Linked DNA regions of Homo sapiens: region 2 is linked to region 1. Evidence: fine-mapped expression QTL. Tissue or cell type: neutrophils. Region 1 holds a variant in brackets; the other region holds the start of a gene. All regions are shown on one strand. Distances are between the middles of the regions.

Region 1 (8,104 bases):
TGCCTATAATCTCAGCACTTTGGGAGGCCAAGACAGGCAGATCACCTGAGGTCAGGAGTTTGAGACCAGCCTGGCCAACATGGTGAAACCCCGTCTCTACTAAAAACACAAAAATTAGTTGGACATGGTGGTGGGCACCTGTAATCCCAGCTACTCGGGAGGCTGATGCAGAAGAATCACTTGAACCCGGGAGATGGAGATTGCAGTGAGCCAGCATCTTGCCACTGCACTCTAGCCTGGGTTACAGAGCGAGACTCTGTCTCAAAAAAAAAAAAAATTAAATAAATAGAAAAGAACTGTGATGAATTCCACAGGAAACAGGATATAGAAATAGGGATTAACAGGCTGTGAATAACTTTAGATAGGAGTGGTTAGACAAGGTCTGTTGGAGTAACAAGGAAACAGCCACGCCAAAGCCGGGGAAGGAAAAGGAACAGCATATGCAAAGGTCCTGAGCTGGGAAGTGGACTGGCTGGAATTTAGTGGGCAGCAGAGATGTAGGTGGGGTAGGCAGGGCCTTGAAGGAGATGAGATAAAGAAGAACTGTATCCAAAGCCCCATGAGAATTGACTGGAAGAAAAGAAGGACATGGTATGAATGATGTGTTAAGCGATACAGGAAAAAACATCATAGCCTTGAAAATATTGAGCTGGGGGCCAGGCGCGGTGGCTCACGCCTGTAATCCCAGAATTTTGGGAGGCCAAGGTGGGTGGATCACAAGGTCAGGAGTTTGCAGGAGGCGGAGGTTGCAGTGAGCCAAGATCGTGCCATTGCACTCCAGACTGGGCGACAGGGCGACACTTGGTTTCAAAAAACAAAAAAGGCCGGGAGCGGTGGCTCACGCCTGTAATGCCAGCACTTTGGGAGGCCAAGGTGGGTGAATCACAAAGTCAGGAGATTGAGACCATCCTGGCTAACACGGTGAAACCCCATCTCTACTAAAAAAAATACAAAAAGTTAGCTGGGCGTGGTGGTGGGAGCCTGTAGTCCCAGCTGCTCGGGAGGCTGAAGCAGGAGAATGGCGTGAACCTGGGAGGCGGAGCTTGCAGTGAGCCCAGATTGCGCCACTGCACTCCAGCCTGGGCGACAGAGCGAGACTCCGTCTCAAAACAAACAAACAAAAAAGGAAAAAAAAAAAGAAAATATTGAGTGGGGAGGACTGTTCAGACTGAAGGAAAGAGACATATCTGCATAACGATGCCTGAGGTGTTTTGGCAGAGAGAAGGCCCAAAGAGTTTGTGTTGCGCAGACCTGCTCTTCACTGTGATATTAGTGGGAGTTTTGGGCAGCCCTGGGTGAGCCTTTCTGTTGCTGAACCCCATGAAGATCTCATCACCCTCACAGGTTGCCCCTTACTCCCTTTGGTCACCACAGTGACTTGCCACCCACTTACCATCCCCAAGGTTCTCTTTCTTGCTATGCTTTCCTCTTGACTTTGGGTTTTACTGCTAATTCCTTCGGGGAAGAGGTGAAGCAGTTCTCACAGGGTTAACGAGAATTTTGGACACAAATATAGTTATAATTAAGGAAAAACAGATATAAAGCTCTCAATTTAGACAAACTGTGCTTGAATTTGAATCCTGGCTCTGCCATTTACCAGCTGTATGTTCTTGGGGAAGTGACTTAGCCTTAGGTAAGTCTCATTTTCTGCATCTATAAAGTCACAGTATTTGCCTCATGGGGTTATTGTAAGGATTAAATGAGTTCACAGATATGTTACATGAATTACATTCTTAGAACAGTGGCTAGTACATATTCAACACTCTGTGTTTGTTAATGCTGATGTCATTATTCAAGACTTTTTTTGGAGACAGAGTCTCGCTCTGTCGCCCAGGCTGGAGTGCAGTGGTGCTACCTCGGCTCACTGCAACCTCCACCTCCCAGGTGCAAGCGATTCTCCTCCCTCAGACTCCCAAGTAGCTGGGATTACAGGCACCCGCCACCATGCCCAGCTAATTTTTGTATTTTTAGTAGAGACAAGGTTTCACCACGTTGGCCAGGCTGGTTTCAAACTCCTGACCTCAAGTGATCCGCCTGCCTCAGCCTCCCAAAGTGCTAGGACTACAGGATGAGCCACCACGTCAGGCCTCAAGACTTATTTATTAATATTTAATTAATTCAGTCTTAGGTGAGCTCTAGGCTAGATGATAGATGCTGAGATTATGAAGACAGGGCTTAAGGGGTTCAAGTTTCCAGGAACCCACAGTTTAGGGGAAGATGTTTGTTAGCACGTGGCCAGAGAGTCAGCCAGACCTGATTTTCATTCTGAGTTTCCACCTAGTTTCTAGCTGTGAGACCAGTCTTGAGCCAGTCTTTCACTTTCTCAGTCTTCGTTTCCTCAATTGTAAAATAAGAATTATAATATTACCCTCACTGGGTTCTGGTGAGGATCAAATGAGATAATCTATGTAAAATGCTTAGCACAGTTCCTGGAATATAGTAGTAATTACTTAATCAATGTTAATTATTGTTTTTTTTCAGGAAGTAGGCCAATATGTGGATTTATTAGAATTCAAGGTAGAGAATGTATTCTAGATGGGGAAACAACCTGCCGAAGGAGTCTGGTAGGAGATTAACTTTGCCAGTAAGAATAGAAGGAAGCCTAGAGGAGGTGATGTTGCAACAGGGCTTTGAAGAATGAGTAAGAGTTCTCAGGTAGGGACTGAGGAAAGAGATTCCAGGTAGAAGGAAGACTATCCACAGAGGCATGAAGTTGCAGAAGGTGTAGACATGTTTGGAGGAAGGTAACACATTTAGTAGGGTTTGTGGGACTAGGTTAGAAAAGGGGGGATTCAGGTCAGCCTTTGTGGAATTTATCTTTTTTTTGAGACAGAGTCTCACTGTATTACCCAGGCTGGATTGCAATGGTGCAATCTTAGCTCACTGCAACCTTTGTCTCCTGGGTTCAAGCGATTCTTCTGCCTCACCCTACCGAGTACCTGGGATTACAGGTGCCCGCCAACACGCTTGGCTAATTTTTGTATTTTTAGTAGAGACAGACTTTCACCATGTTGGTCAGGCTGGTCTTGAACTCCTGACCTCAGGTGATCCACCCGCTTCGGCCTCTCAAAGTGCTGAGATTACAGGCGTGAGCCACTGTGCTGGGCCTGTAGGATTTTATGATTCAAATAAAGAGGGAGAAAGAAGGAACATCAATTGAGCTCCTACCACATGCATGGCACTGAATTATGGTGTTTTTTTCTTTTTTCTTTTTTTTTTTGAGACAGAGTCTCACTTTGTTGCCTGGGCTGGAGTGCAGTGGCATGATCTCGGCTCACTGCAACCTCTGCCTCCCGGGTTCAAACGATTCTCCTGCCTCAGCCTCCCAAGTAGCTGGGATTACAGGCACCCGCCACTATGCCCAGCTAATTTTTTTGTATTTTTAGTAGAGACGGGGTTTCATCATGTTGGCCAGGCTGGTCTCGAACTCCTGACCTCAGGATTCGCCCGCCTCGGCCTCCCAAAATGCTGGGATTACAGGCATGAGCCACCGCGCCCAGCCATGGCACTGAATTAAATGGTCAGCTTTTTGTTTATTGTTTGTTTTTGAGACAAGGTTGGTCTTGTTCTGTTGCTCAGACTACAGTACAGTAGAACAGTCATAGCTCACTGTAACTTCGAACTTCTTTCTAAGTTCAAGTGATCCTCCTGCCTCAGTCCTCAGAATAGCTGGGACTACAGGCATGCCACCACCACGCCCGGCTAATTTTTTGTAAAGTTGGTGTTTTGCCATGTTGCCCAGGCTGATCTCGAACTCCTGGCCTCAAATGATCTTCCTGCCTCGGTCTCCCAAAGCTTTAGGATTACAGGCATGAGCCACTGTGCCTGGTCAGCATTTTTAAAATTTAACTTGGATTGGCCGGACACGGTGGCTCCCAGCACTTTGGGAGGCTGAGGTGGGCGGATCACTTGAGGTCAGGAGTTCAAGACCAGCCTAGCCAACACAGTAAAACCCCGTCTCTACTAAAAATGCAAAAATTAGCTGGGCATGGTGGTGGGCACCTGTAGTCCCAGCTACTTGGGAAGCTGAGGCAGGAGAATTGCTTGAACCTGGGAGGCGGAGGTTGCAGTGACCCAGGATCATACCATCGCATTCCAGCCTAGGCGACAAGAGGAAACTCTGTCTCAAAAAAAAAAAAAAAAAAAA[AAAT/T]TAACTTGGATTTTATCTTGCCGGTAGTAGGGAACCATAGAGATTTTTAAGCCGACTGTGACATGATTGAATTTTTTTTTTTTTTTTTTTTTGAGCCAGGGTCTTGCTCTATCGCCTAGGCTGGAGTGCAGTGGAGGGATCTGGGCTCACTGCAACCTCCACCTCCTGGGTTCAAGCAATTCTCCTGCCTTAGCCTCCTGAGTAGTTGGGACTACAGGCACGTGCCACCATGGCTAGCTAATTTTTACTTTTGTTTTGAGATGGAGTTTCGCTCTTGTTGTCCAGGCTAGAATGCAATGGCGCGATCTCGGCTCACTGCAACCTTCACCTCCCGGGTTCAAGAGATTCTCTTCCCTCAGCCTCCCGAGTAGCAGGGATTACAGGTGCAAGCCACCATGACTGGCTGATTTTTGTATTTTTAGTAGAGACAGGGTTTCATCATATTAGTCAGGCTGGTCTCGAACTCCTGACCTCAGGTGATCTGCCCGCCTCAGCCTCCTAAAGTGCTGGGATTACAGGCGTGAGCCACAGTGCCCAGCCTAATTTTTGTATTTTTAGTAGAGACGGGGTTTCACTGTGTTGGCCAGGCTGGTCTTGAACTGACCTTGTGATCCACCCGCCTTGGCCTGAATGTTTATTTATTTAATTTTTAGGATGATGTCCCTGGCAGCCAGTGGAAGAATAGGATAGAATAAGGAGAGAATAATCAGGTGGTTAAGGCAGTGGCCCAAGGGACAGAAATTGCAGCATTTAGCCAAGAGGAATTTGGCGGGGTTGTGGAGAAAGGCCAGTGTCTGGGCTGAAGAGAATTTTTGCAGGTCAAACCCATAGTCGCAGAGGTAGATTTTATGTGTTACTGGTGGGGAGGCCAATGAGGGAAACAGAGGCCAGCTCTTGAGAAGTCAGAAGCAGGGCAGGGTTTGAATGAATGGAACAAAGCTATGGGACGTAAAGCCCCCAAACCTGACTCTGAACCTGGTATATTTCTGAGTTTCTCTGTGATCTTGAAAATGTCATATTATGTTGTCTTTAGTTTTCTATCAGCGGATAATATGGCCTCTCCTATCTGCTATTCATGATTGTGAGAAAGAAACCAGGCAGGGAGTGTATAAGGTGTGTAAGTCCTTTGTAAGCAGTAAATCACTAAACAAATCCTAGACCCTATGTTATCAGGGAGGCAGTTGGCCGCACGGGATAGCGTAGTTACAAGAGACTATAGGCGGAGATGGGGGATATCTGTCCTGTGGTGTAGATAAACAGCCTAATCAATACACACACACTCTACAGGTAAATACAGCAATTTCCATACTGAGCTGTGTCTACCAGAGGGCAATAGGAGGTTCTCAATTCTCACCACCAGTGACCCTATGAATTGCCCTGTAGATGCCTCTGTCCCTCATTGGATATGAGGTGGTACGAGCGGTCTGAATCTGTAGACTTAGACAGGCTTCAGGTATCTGGGGAACCATGTGAGTAAAACCTTGTATTGTTTCTGGGGCTAGAATCTAGTCTCCTTCAAACACTCAGAAGGATCTGTGACTGCCTTCAAAGGTTAAGAGTCATTGATTTTTCTCACTAGAAATTAATAAGAACAGCTATCCTTGGGGAGAAGGAATGATGGGGGTAGGGAAAGATTTTCATTTAATATTTTTGACCTTTCTGAACGGTCTGCATTTTCTAAACAGGAACATGTATTAGGTTCATTGAAAAAAAATATGTCAGGGGTTAGCTGAGCAGTGAGATAATGGGTCCTTTTTAGATTTTTGTCTTTATACCTGTTCGTATTAAACAAACACAAATATTAATAACATATTTTTAAAGACCCAAAAAAATAAAAATTAAAAACCCTGATAGTATCAGCACATACACAGAAATCACTCCATTATGCAAAGTTCATCCTCTATTATGAAAGGCAAAATGTCTACATTTCCTATCAACCACTGGCTTCAATTCAGTAAAACTTGCATACCAAGTAGGCAAGGTGGAAAAGAAAAAGGCAGAACATTTCATGTATTTCAATTCAGACGCATAAAAATGTCAAGCCCTACACGTTATCAGCTTTCGTATACACCGTCTTCTGCATTCGCCTGTACGGGCCAATGGGCTAGCTGGTCGGCGTTTGATGCTTGAAGTGATGGAACGGAGTACGGGGTTAAATCCACTACCCTCTCCCCACGCACTCTAGTAATTACTCTATTTCCACGTCATGTTTCCGGGTGTGTGTGTCCCTGCTCACGCAGAAACTGAAGTTCAAAGCAGGCGGAGTCACCCATGTTCTTTTTGTTGTCCCCAGAACCCAATTCAGGAGTTGGGTCCCCAGAGGATCTGGAGATACCTGGGGACTATCTAACTAGCTGATTCCCGCGTGGTAAGAGGCTCTCAACCTCGCCACCACGTGGTGCCAAGGGCCGGGAAAAGGGAGAGCGGGCAGGAGGGAGCTGTATCAGGGGCATTTAAAGTGCCTTGACGTCACGCACTGCCAGGAACTCAGCTGAGTTTTCAGCAGGACATTCCGGTCATCTTCCCTCCCTCCCCCCGGGCTTCTGTGCCCAAGTCCTCGGCTCTTCCCTCGCTGTGGCGGAGGGAGGAGCACCGAACTGTCGGAACAGCCAGCACAGGGGCGTATCAGTCTCCTCTTGGCTCCGCCCTTTCTCCTAGCTGCTCTCCTCATTGGTCAGTGGGCGGGGCTTCGGCTGTACCGCACACGCACTGGGACCTCTGGGTGGCCGAACGAGCTGGCCTTTCATGAATTATGCATGACGGCGTGCCTCGGCCAGGCTGGGGCTGGGCGAGGATTGGCTGAAGGGGCTGTAATTCAGCGGTTTCCGGAGCTGCGGCGGCGCAGACTGGGAGGGGGAGCCGGGGGTTCCGACGTCGCAGCCGAGGGAACAAGCCCCAACCGGATCCTGGACAGGCACCCCGGCTTGGCGCTGTCTCTCCCCCTCGGCTCGGAGAGGCCCTTCGGCCTGAGGGAGCCTCGCCGCCCGTCCCCGGCACACGCGCAGCCCCGGCCTCTCGGCCTCTGCCGGAGAAACAGGTGAAGGGGGTGCAGGGTGGGGCCGTTGGGGAGGCCTGGGGACCCGGGGGCTCCGCAGCGGCAGGGGGCCTCTGGGACCTTGGGGATGTTGTGATGGACGCTGCAGTGGGGCCGGGAGAGATGAAGAGACGCGGAGGGTCGCCCTGAGGGAAGACTCTTCGGGATGACAGGAGCGGGCCTCGGAAGGGACTCGGGGCGCTGGAGGGAAGTTTCGTTCTTCGGAGAAACAGAACGCGCTCGAGGGGGCACCGTGGGGCGAGGGCGCACTCGGTTGCGGCGGCAGGAGTGAGGGACAGTCCCCCGATTTCCTGCTCCCTGGGGCCCTGGGGACGTTCCGGCCACCGGAGCGACTGTCACGCCGACGGGGATCACCGGCGCGAGTGGGGGGTCGGAAAGCGCCTCCTCCCCGCCCGGTCGGCGGCTCCCGCTGAGCCACTTCCTCCGCTTGCCCTGTTCCCGCTCCTTCAGGAGACAGCTGTGCCCTTTTGGAGGCAGGAATAGGTGTGTCTGTCGCCTGCAGCCTTACGGGCTGGCTGGTCGTGGGTAGGCTTTATTGCATAAGAATCAAGTTTCCTGTAGGGAAATTGACAGACCGGTACTCTTTCTAAATTCCCTCGCATCTTTTTCTAGGTTAAATTATGCTCCCCCCACGTCCCCGCCTTGTAAAAAAGAGAAAAAAAGACAAAATAAAATCCCCATCAACCCGTCAAGCCAGCTCTAGAGAGAGAAATAAACCTCTTGACATTGTCCTTTTCCAAATACCTGGTAAAGTCGGCCAGAAGATAAATAATTGAGCCATTGCATTTACTGGATTGTGGTGTTGCTTAATTGCATAGGACGGAATGAACCAATTGAGAGTGGGAGTTTTCTGTCTCAGAGCCAAGATCTTGGGTAAATGCAGAGGAGAGGGAAACAAA
Region 2 (8,091 bases), 380 kb before region 1:
AGCTGAGTATGTGGAGATATGGTAAGATACTGCAGGGAGATGTGGGAGGCAGCAGGCAAGCCCTGACAGGCTTGCTTACCTCACCCCCTGTGGGGGCTCAGCTAAGTCAGGGAGCTTGCTTTCTGAGGAAACCTACAACTTTGCCCAACCTGAGTGGTGGGCTAGGCAAGGCTACAGTGCTGAAATCATGGGGTGATGGTGGGAGTAGCAAGCAGAGACCTGCAGGGCAGCAGGGGGAACAGCCAAGAGCTATAAACTCTGCTAGGGCAGCCAGGGCCTGGCAGAAAGGGGAGACACCCTCTGTTATCCCAGCTAAGATCGAAACTTGTGGTGATCCAGAGGATCAGAATCTGGAGTCGGAGAAAAAGAACTAAGAGTGTTTACGCTATGTAAAAATCAAACACTATACAAATCCTTGCCTGGCCAGAAACCAAAGTATATAAATGGGCTGGGGGTGTTGGCCTAATCTCTTCAGCTGACACCCACAGATCTTGAGCCCTCTATAAGAATAAAGGGTGAAAGAGAGCCTGAGTCAGCAAGGAATGAGATTTCAAGCTTAATCCCCTGCCCTTGTTTCTCATTCGGCATCTATAGCAGATGCTGAATGAAGAAAGTTATTTATAATTTTTTTTATTGTTATTATTTTTATTTTCTGAGACGGAGTCTCGCTCTGTCATCCAGACTAGAGTGCAGTGGTGCGATCTTGGCTTACTGCAACCTCTGCCTTCGGGTTCAAGCGATCCTCCTGCTGCAGCCTCCCAAGTAGCTCAGATTACAAGCATGCACCACCATGCCCGGCTAATTTTTGTATTTTTAGTAGAGACGGGGTTTCACTATGTTGGCCAGGCTGGTCTGGAACTCCTGACCTCAGGTGACCCACCTGCCTCGGCCTCCCAAAGTGCTGGGATTACAGGCGTGAGCCACTGCACCCGGCCTATTGTTATTTTTTAAGATAGCATCTCGCTCTGTTGCCCAGGCTGGAGTGCAGTGGCGTGATCATAGCTCACTGCAGCCTTGACCTCCTGGGCTCAAGTGATCCTCCCACCTAAGCCTTCTGAGTAACTGAGACTACTGGTGCACAGCACCATGCCCAGCTGATTTTTAAATTTTTTGTAGAGACAGGATCTCCCTGTGTTGCCCAGGCTGGTCTCAAACTCCTGACCTCAAGCAATCCTCCCACCTTAGCCTCCCAAAGTGCTAGGATTACAGGCACGAGCCACTGTGCCCAGCTGAAAGTGAAATTCTTAACTTTTCATGGGTCATAGATGCCCTTGGAAATCTTGTAATATCTAATCTATCCCTAGAAAAATGCACATGCATCCACAAAAACAAAATTTGGGATTTTTTGCATGTGAATTCAGGTGGCTTATGGAATCCTTGGACATGGGTTAAGAACTTAGAATCGCTTGAACATAGGAGGCGGAGGTTGCAGTGAGCAGAGACTGCGCCACTGCACTCCAGCCTGGGATACAGTGACTCTGTCTCAAAAAAAAAAAAAAAAAAACAGGCGGGGCACAGTGGCTCACGCCTCTAATCCCAGCACTTTGGGAGGCCAAGGCAGGCGGATCACGAGGTTAGGAGTTTAAGAACAACCTGGCTAACATGGTGAAACCCCATCTCTACTAAAAATACAAAAAATTAGCCAGGCGTGGTGGCGCACACCTGTAATCCCAGCTACTCAGGAAGCTGAGGCAGGAGAATCGCTTCAACCTAGGAGGCGGAGGTTGCAGTGAGCCGAGATTGCAACATTGCACTCCAGCCTGGGTGACAGAGCAAGACTCCATATCGGAAAAACAAAACAAAACAAAACAAAAAATTAACTATGAGTGGGAAGGGAAAGGCATTACCCTCATCCTCTGTGTCTTCCCCATTAGTCAGTTCATACAGGGTAAAGACGGAGTTGTTCTGGCCACTCCTGGAAACCTGTGAATACAGAAAATGAGGAGTGAATTAGAACCAAGAATCTCCTGGGAGACAGTAAATTCATCAGCTCCACCCCTCTGATCCAGGAATGATACCTATTCCCAAACCAGGACTCACTGTCGCCTCTGCAGAGTGGCCTAAAAGCCATAAACCCTACAAGTGCTATATTTATATGTGTACACACTCATTTGGAACCACTAAACCACAGGTCTTCACGTGTCTGAGGAGTGACCTTGACCTCTCATTCTGGTTGTTTTCCTGTTCAAGAATGGATGGTGTGTATTTGTTATATTTAGAATGTTGATGCTTCTTACCCTCTTCTCTTCCTTGGGAATGTTTGGGACTGGTGGTTTAGGGGGAAGAGTATTCTGTCCCCACACCCACACTGATTCAGAATATCTCATTCATGTTGTGGACAGTCCCATAACAGTGCAGTGGGGGAGGGGCCCCAGGTTTTTTCCCTTCCTTTCCCCATTTATCTCCTGTGGCCAGAGGCTCCAGCCAACAATAGCACTCAGGGTTCCCAGTTCTGCATTCTCCAAATATGGCCTCACATAGCCCCCGGCCTCCTACAGGCAAAGAAAGGGAGGTTCTATGCAGCCAAAGACATTGAGTCACTTAAAGAGGTTTCCCTAGAAGGCCTACACTTCCTCTTTCTGCCCCCTCCCCATTTTGCTCAGTCTGGATCTGGGAACACCGGCTATCTGCTAGGCCCTAATATAGTTAACCTTTTCCATGGGTCACTGTTGAATACTTGGCAGAATAATGATCTCACCCACTGATAGATGAGTTTCCCCCATTCTTCTGGCCTCCGCCACATGATCAGGAAGCTGGACTTGCTCTTATCCAACCACTCGAGGTTCCCTGTAAAACAGATACTTATGAAAGCATAACCAGGCGCGCAGTGGCTTACACTTTGGGAGGCCAAGGCGGGAGGACTGCTTGAGCCCAGGAGTTCGAAACTAGCCTGGGCAACATGATGAGACCCTACAGAAAATACAAAAAAATTCTCTCTATAGAAAATACAAAAAATTAGCCAGGTGTGTGGTGACACATGCCTGAGGTCTCAACTACTCAGGAGGCTGAGATGGGAGGATCACTTGAGCCTGGGAGTCGAGGCTGCAGTGAGATAGGACTGAGCCACTGCACTCCAGCCTGGATGACAGAGTGAGACCTTATCTCCCCACCCAAAAAAAAAGTATCATGAACTAAAAAGAAACAAAGAGGCAAAAAAATACCAAGGTGGGACAGAGTGGAAGAGACTCAGCTTTCAGAAAGAAAGATTCAATATTTATTTTACTATTATTATCTACAAGGCACTCATCCTTCTTCCACTTCTCTTCAGGTTTAGGGCACAGACAGAGATTTCAATTTTGTGTACAAAGAAGAAAGGACTTGGGAATTGGGCTGCCTACTTTACAGAAGACTCTGGCCTTCAAGCCAGGAGAGAGAAAAAGTTATTAAAGGGAAAAAGACTTATCCTAATTTGCCCTCAGGAAAACCCAACTAGGAAGAAAAATAAGGAATCTGGGGAACTGAACCCACCTTTCTTCCTCAGTTCCTCTAATACAATCTGGATCGACTCCACAGGAAGCTTTCCTGGTTTAAGGTTAAGGGAACGGCATACACATGAGTTGGGTAGGATAAAAATTTTCAGAGCCAGTCCCATGTTGAGAAACACCTGCCCCTTCCTCTCCCACACACATATGTGTGCAATTTCCCAACATGATATGAATTGGCATTTCCTGGATATTCAAAGGAGGAAGGTAAAGAGAAACTCTTCCAATTAAAAGGAGCTTTATGTGATTGTGCCACTGCATTCCAGCCTGAGCAAGAGAGGAAGACCCTGTCTCCAAAAAAAAAAAAAAAAAAGAAAGAAAGAAGCTTTAGAAAATGAAAGGTACTGTCATTCCTCACCCTCTGTCTGTTGCCTTCCTTCAGCCTTTCTCCACAGATATTTTAGGGATGAATCAGGCAGCAAAAACAAATGACCCTTACTTCCTGGCAGGAGGGGGGCAGAGAAAATAATTAAAGGTAGTTACCCAAGTCTGGGCCTCACACAGAAAAGGATGGAAGATACAAATAGTCAAAAGGGTTTAGGTTAAAAAACTTGGAACTTGGCTTCAGGGCAGAAATTCTAAGACCTTAATGACATCCGAGCAGTCATCACTGCCAAGAACAAGAGGGTATGGTACTGCATTTGCCAGGGGAAAATGTCAGCTACACATTTTCACTCTTTAAGTCCAGTTTGGGTGGGAATCTGCCTACCATGGGTAAAAGGGGGCTGGCGCGGGGGGGCGTCTGGGCATGTGTGAAAGCGCAGAAGTGCATGTGTATGGGCTGTGGAAGAGCCTGAGGGAGGATACGCTGTAGCTTGACGTTGTTGAAGAGCGGGCTCTCCTGAGCTTCCATCACCGTCATGCTGGACTGTTTGTGCAGGCGGCAGAAGGACAGGACCAGCGAGCACCAGGCGGCCAGCTGCTTCTGCCGAGTGTCCACATTCGGTTGTAACCTGCCGGGTGAAGGGAGTGGGGCGCAGAATTAGAGGGCGGGAGGCAGCACTTGCCCGGGACGCATTTCAGGAAGAAAGTAAGGGACTGAGGGTGTTGGCCGACGGGTCTTTTCTCCCCCTCCCCATATGAAGCATCAGGGCTGAGCCCAGGGTCCGGGGGAGGGGAGGGAGGCACAGCGGTGCTTCTTGGGGTCTGAGCCTCACGTAAAGAAGGGTGGGAAGCGATACTGCCACGGCCACTCGAAACTCATCGCCATCGTAGTAGCCCAGGAAACCCGGAAGCTACCGGCTAAGGACTTCCGGCCTTCGCTTCCGCACGTCCGGGCAGAAGGCAATGCAGAAAGGTTCCGGAAGCCTTTCTGGAAAGAGAGAGACCGGCAGGAGGAGTCCTCGTCATGACCCAGTCCCTCGCTGTTATCCTAAAAAGCCCTATCTTTTGGAGCAGGAAGAGTCCTGGGAAGTCTTCTGGTTCAACCCCAGAGAAAGGTCATGTCTTCCCCAAAGCGGCGAATTTTTGTTGCTGAAGTAGAACGGCAAATAAAGCCCAGATCTCCAGATCCCAGCCTACCTTTGTTTCCTCTATACTAGGCTTCTTTTAATATTAACATTTCTGTGAATTGCCATTTAATTTGATCAACTCACAATTACCCAAGCTCAATTCCAATGTCCTTTGTTTTATTTTTAATTTTTTATTTATTTATCTGTTTATTTATTTTTGAGAAAGGTCTCCCTTTGTTGCCCAGGCTGGAATACAGTGGCACAATCACAGCTCACTGCAGCCTCTACCTCCTGAGATCTGGCGACCGTCCGGCTTCAGCCTCCTGAGTAGCTGGGACTACAGGTGCACACCACCGCACCCAGTTATTAAATACATTTTGTTGTTGTTTTGGTACAGATGGGCGTCTCACCAAACTCCTGGGCTCAAGTGATCCTCCTGCCTCGACCTCCCAAAGTGCTGGGACTACAGGAGTGAGTTAACGCTCCCAGCAACCCGGCTAATATTTTCTAGAGATGGGCACTCACTATGTTGGCCCAGGTTGGTCTCAAACTCCTGGGCTCAAGCGATCTCCAGACCTCAGCCTCCCAAAGGGATAACAGGTGACCAACCCGGCCCTCCAATTTCCTTTGACTTCACCATTCCTCAGGCTCCTGCAGCACCCATGGGAGCACACTTTGTAGCTTGAATCACTAGAGACAGCCCTACTTCCATGATTCAGAGCTGCAGGCTTTGACCACAACCACCCATCTCTCACCTCTGCCATGACCTCGCCTTTCTTGTCTCAAGACCTAGGACCCCTTTTGGTTTTATCAGACTCCTTACCCAGCCTAAACTACTCAATTCTGTCCCCTTACCTACCTACCTACCTACAGGTCAGTTCCCAAACCAATGATCGTTGCTCCATTTCCCCCACCTCTTTTTTTCACTCCTGGGCTCTGGAGTATTGCTGGAAGAAAAATAACCAGAACATGTTTGCCAAGCCCTAGATTCCCTGACTAGCCTCACTACCGGGCTCTAAGGGCAGCTCTGTGATCCTTTGTCTTTTATTGACTCCGTCACCCTCAAGATAACTATTCAAACTTTTCCACATTCATCAAGGCACTCCACCTGTCCCCATGTCTCTGCTCTCTGCAGAACGCCTTTCATTCCTGCTTTATGAGATTGAGGCCATGCATGTGAACCCTTTAAGTTTTCCCTCTGTCTGTCTCTATACTTGATTCATCGCTCAAAAATTTCTCTCCACTTTTACTCCTTCTTTTTTTTTTTTTTTTTTTTTTTTTGAGACGGAGTCTTGCACTGTTGCCGGGTTGGAGTGCAGTGGCTTGATCTCAGCTCACTGCAACCTCTGCCTCCCTGGTTCAAGCGATTCTCCTGCCTCAGCCTCCCTAGAAGCTGGGATTACAGGCATGAGCTACCACACCCAGCTAATTTTTGTATTTTTAGTAGAGACGGGGTTTCACCATGTTGGTCAGGCTGGTCTCAAACTCCTGACCTCAAGTGATCCGCCCACCTCGGCCTCCCAAAGTGCTGGGATTACCAACCGCATCCAGCCTACTCCTTCCTTTTGGACTCAGAAGAAGTGTTGCACCCTTTGGCATATGTTCTTGCCTCCCCTTTTCAACTTCCTCCAGGACTTCTCTATCATCTTCCCTCTCGCCCTTGCCCTTAGCTCCTCTCCCATATACTATAAATATGCACAGGTCTTCCTTAATTAAAAATATGTAAACCCTTGGCCAGGCTTGGTGGCTCATGCCTGTAATCTCAGCACTTTGGGAGGCCGAGGCAGGTGGATCACGTGAAGTCAGGAGTTGTTCAAGATCAGCCTGGCCAGCATGGTGAAACCCCGTCTCTACTAAAAAATACAAAAAAATAGCCGGGCGTGGTGGTGGGCACCTGTAATCCCAGCTACTTGGGAGGCAGAGGCAGGAGAATCGCTTGAACCCGGGAGGCGGAGGTTGCGGTGACGCGAGATCGCGCCATTGCACTCCAGCCTGGGCGACAAGAGCAAAACTCCATCTCAAAAAATAATCATAATAATTATATATATATATTTTTTAGACGGAGTTTCGCTCTTGTCACCAAGGCTGGAGTGCAATGGCGCGATCTCGGCTCACCGTAACCACTGCTTCCCAGGTTCAAGCAATTCTGCCTCAGCCTCCCAAGTAGCTGGGACTACAGGCATGCGTCACCACACCTGGCTAATTTTTGTATTTTTACTAGAGATGGAGTTTCACCATCTTGGCCAGGCTGGTATCGAATTCCTGACCTCGTGATCCACCCGCCTCGGCCTCCCAAAGTGCTGGGATTACAGGCGTGAGCCACTGCACCTGGCCCAATAATAATGATATTTACATCCCTTGGTATCATAGCAAGACTCCATCTATACAAAAAATTTTAAAAATTAGCCAGGCATGGTGACACATGCCTGTAGTCCCTACACTTTGGGAGGCTGAGACAGGAGGATTATTTGACCCCAGGAGTTTGAGGCTGCAGTGTGGTATGATCGCACCACTGCACTCCAGCCTGGATGACAGAGCAAGACCCTTTCTCTTAAAGAAAAAAAAAAAGTACAGGCTGGGCGTGGTGGCTCACACTTGTAATCCCAGCACTTTGGGAAGCTGAGGCGGGCGGATCACTTGAGATCAGGAGTTGGAGAGCAGCCTGGGCAACATGGTGAAACCCTGTCTTTACTAAAAATACAAAAATTAGCTGGATGTGTTGGTGCACATGCCTGTAATCCCAGCTATACAGGAGGCTGAGGCACAAGAATTGCTTAAACCCAAAAGGTAGAAGTTGCAGTGCCTAGATCACACCACTGCACTCCAGCCTGGGAGACAGAACGAGACTCTGTATCAAATAAATAAATAAATAAATAAGTACAAACCTTGACCTTGTCATCATCTGATCTCAATTTTCTGTCTGATTTCCAACCTTTCCCTCACCCAAATCCTTCACGCGCACAGTTCCTGTGACCTTAGTTTCTGGGTAAAAGAAAAAAAAAGAAAAGGCCAGCTGCAGTGGCTCACGCCTGTAATCTCAGCACTGTGGGAGGCCGAGGTGGGCGGATCACTTGAGGTCAGGAGTTCAAGACCAGCCTGGCCAACATGGTGAAACCTCGTCTCTACAAAAAATACAAAAAATTAGCCAGGCATGGTGG

Which allele goes with the higher level. Positions count from the first base shown, and alleles are read on the strand shown. Sizes are in standard deviations (SD) of each study's normalised expression.
With allele T in place of AAAT in region 1, the expression in neutrophils of the gene that starts at base 4,719 in region 2 is higher (large effect, 1.5 SD a copy in BLUEPRINT).

The links. PIP is the estimated chance that this variant, and not a neighbour inherited with it, causes the effect.
Region 2: VPS25 starts here. The variant in region 1 is fine-mapped to the expression of VPS25 in neutrophils (BLUEPRINT, PIP 0.91).

What each region holds. Positions count from the first base shown.
Region 1 is chr17:42,387,362-42,395,465 of GRCh38, reverse strand. It overlaps STAT3 (signal transducer and activator of transcription 3), which reads left to right and starts at 7,024. Exons shown (of 24, transcript NM_139276.3): 1 at 7,024-7,187. RefSeq lists enhancers at 1,858-2,127, 6,304-6,573 and silencers at 7,094-7,373, 7,604-7,683. The variant AAAT/T (reference allele first, on the strand shown) is at 4,148.
Region 2 is chr17:42,770,077-42,778,167 of GRCh38, reverse strand. VPS25 (vacuolar protein sorting 25 homolog) reads right to left here and starts at 4,719. Exons shown (of 6, transcript NM_032353.4): 1 at 4,640-4,719; 2 at 4,290-4,435; 3 at 3,469-3,522; 4 at 2,699-2,787; 5 at 1,848-1,923. The coding sequence starts at 4,692. RefSeq lists enhancers at 2,263-2,557, 3,997-4,544, 4,628-4,827.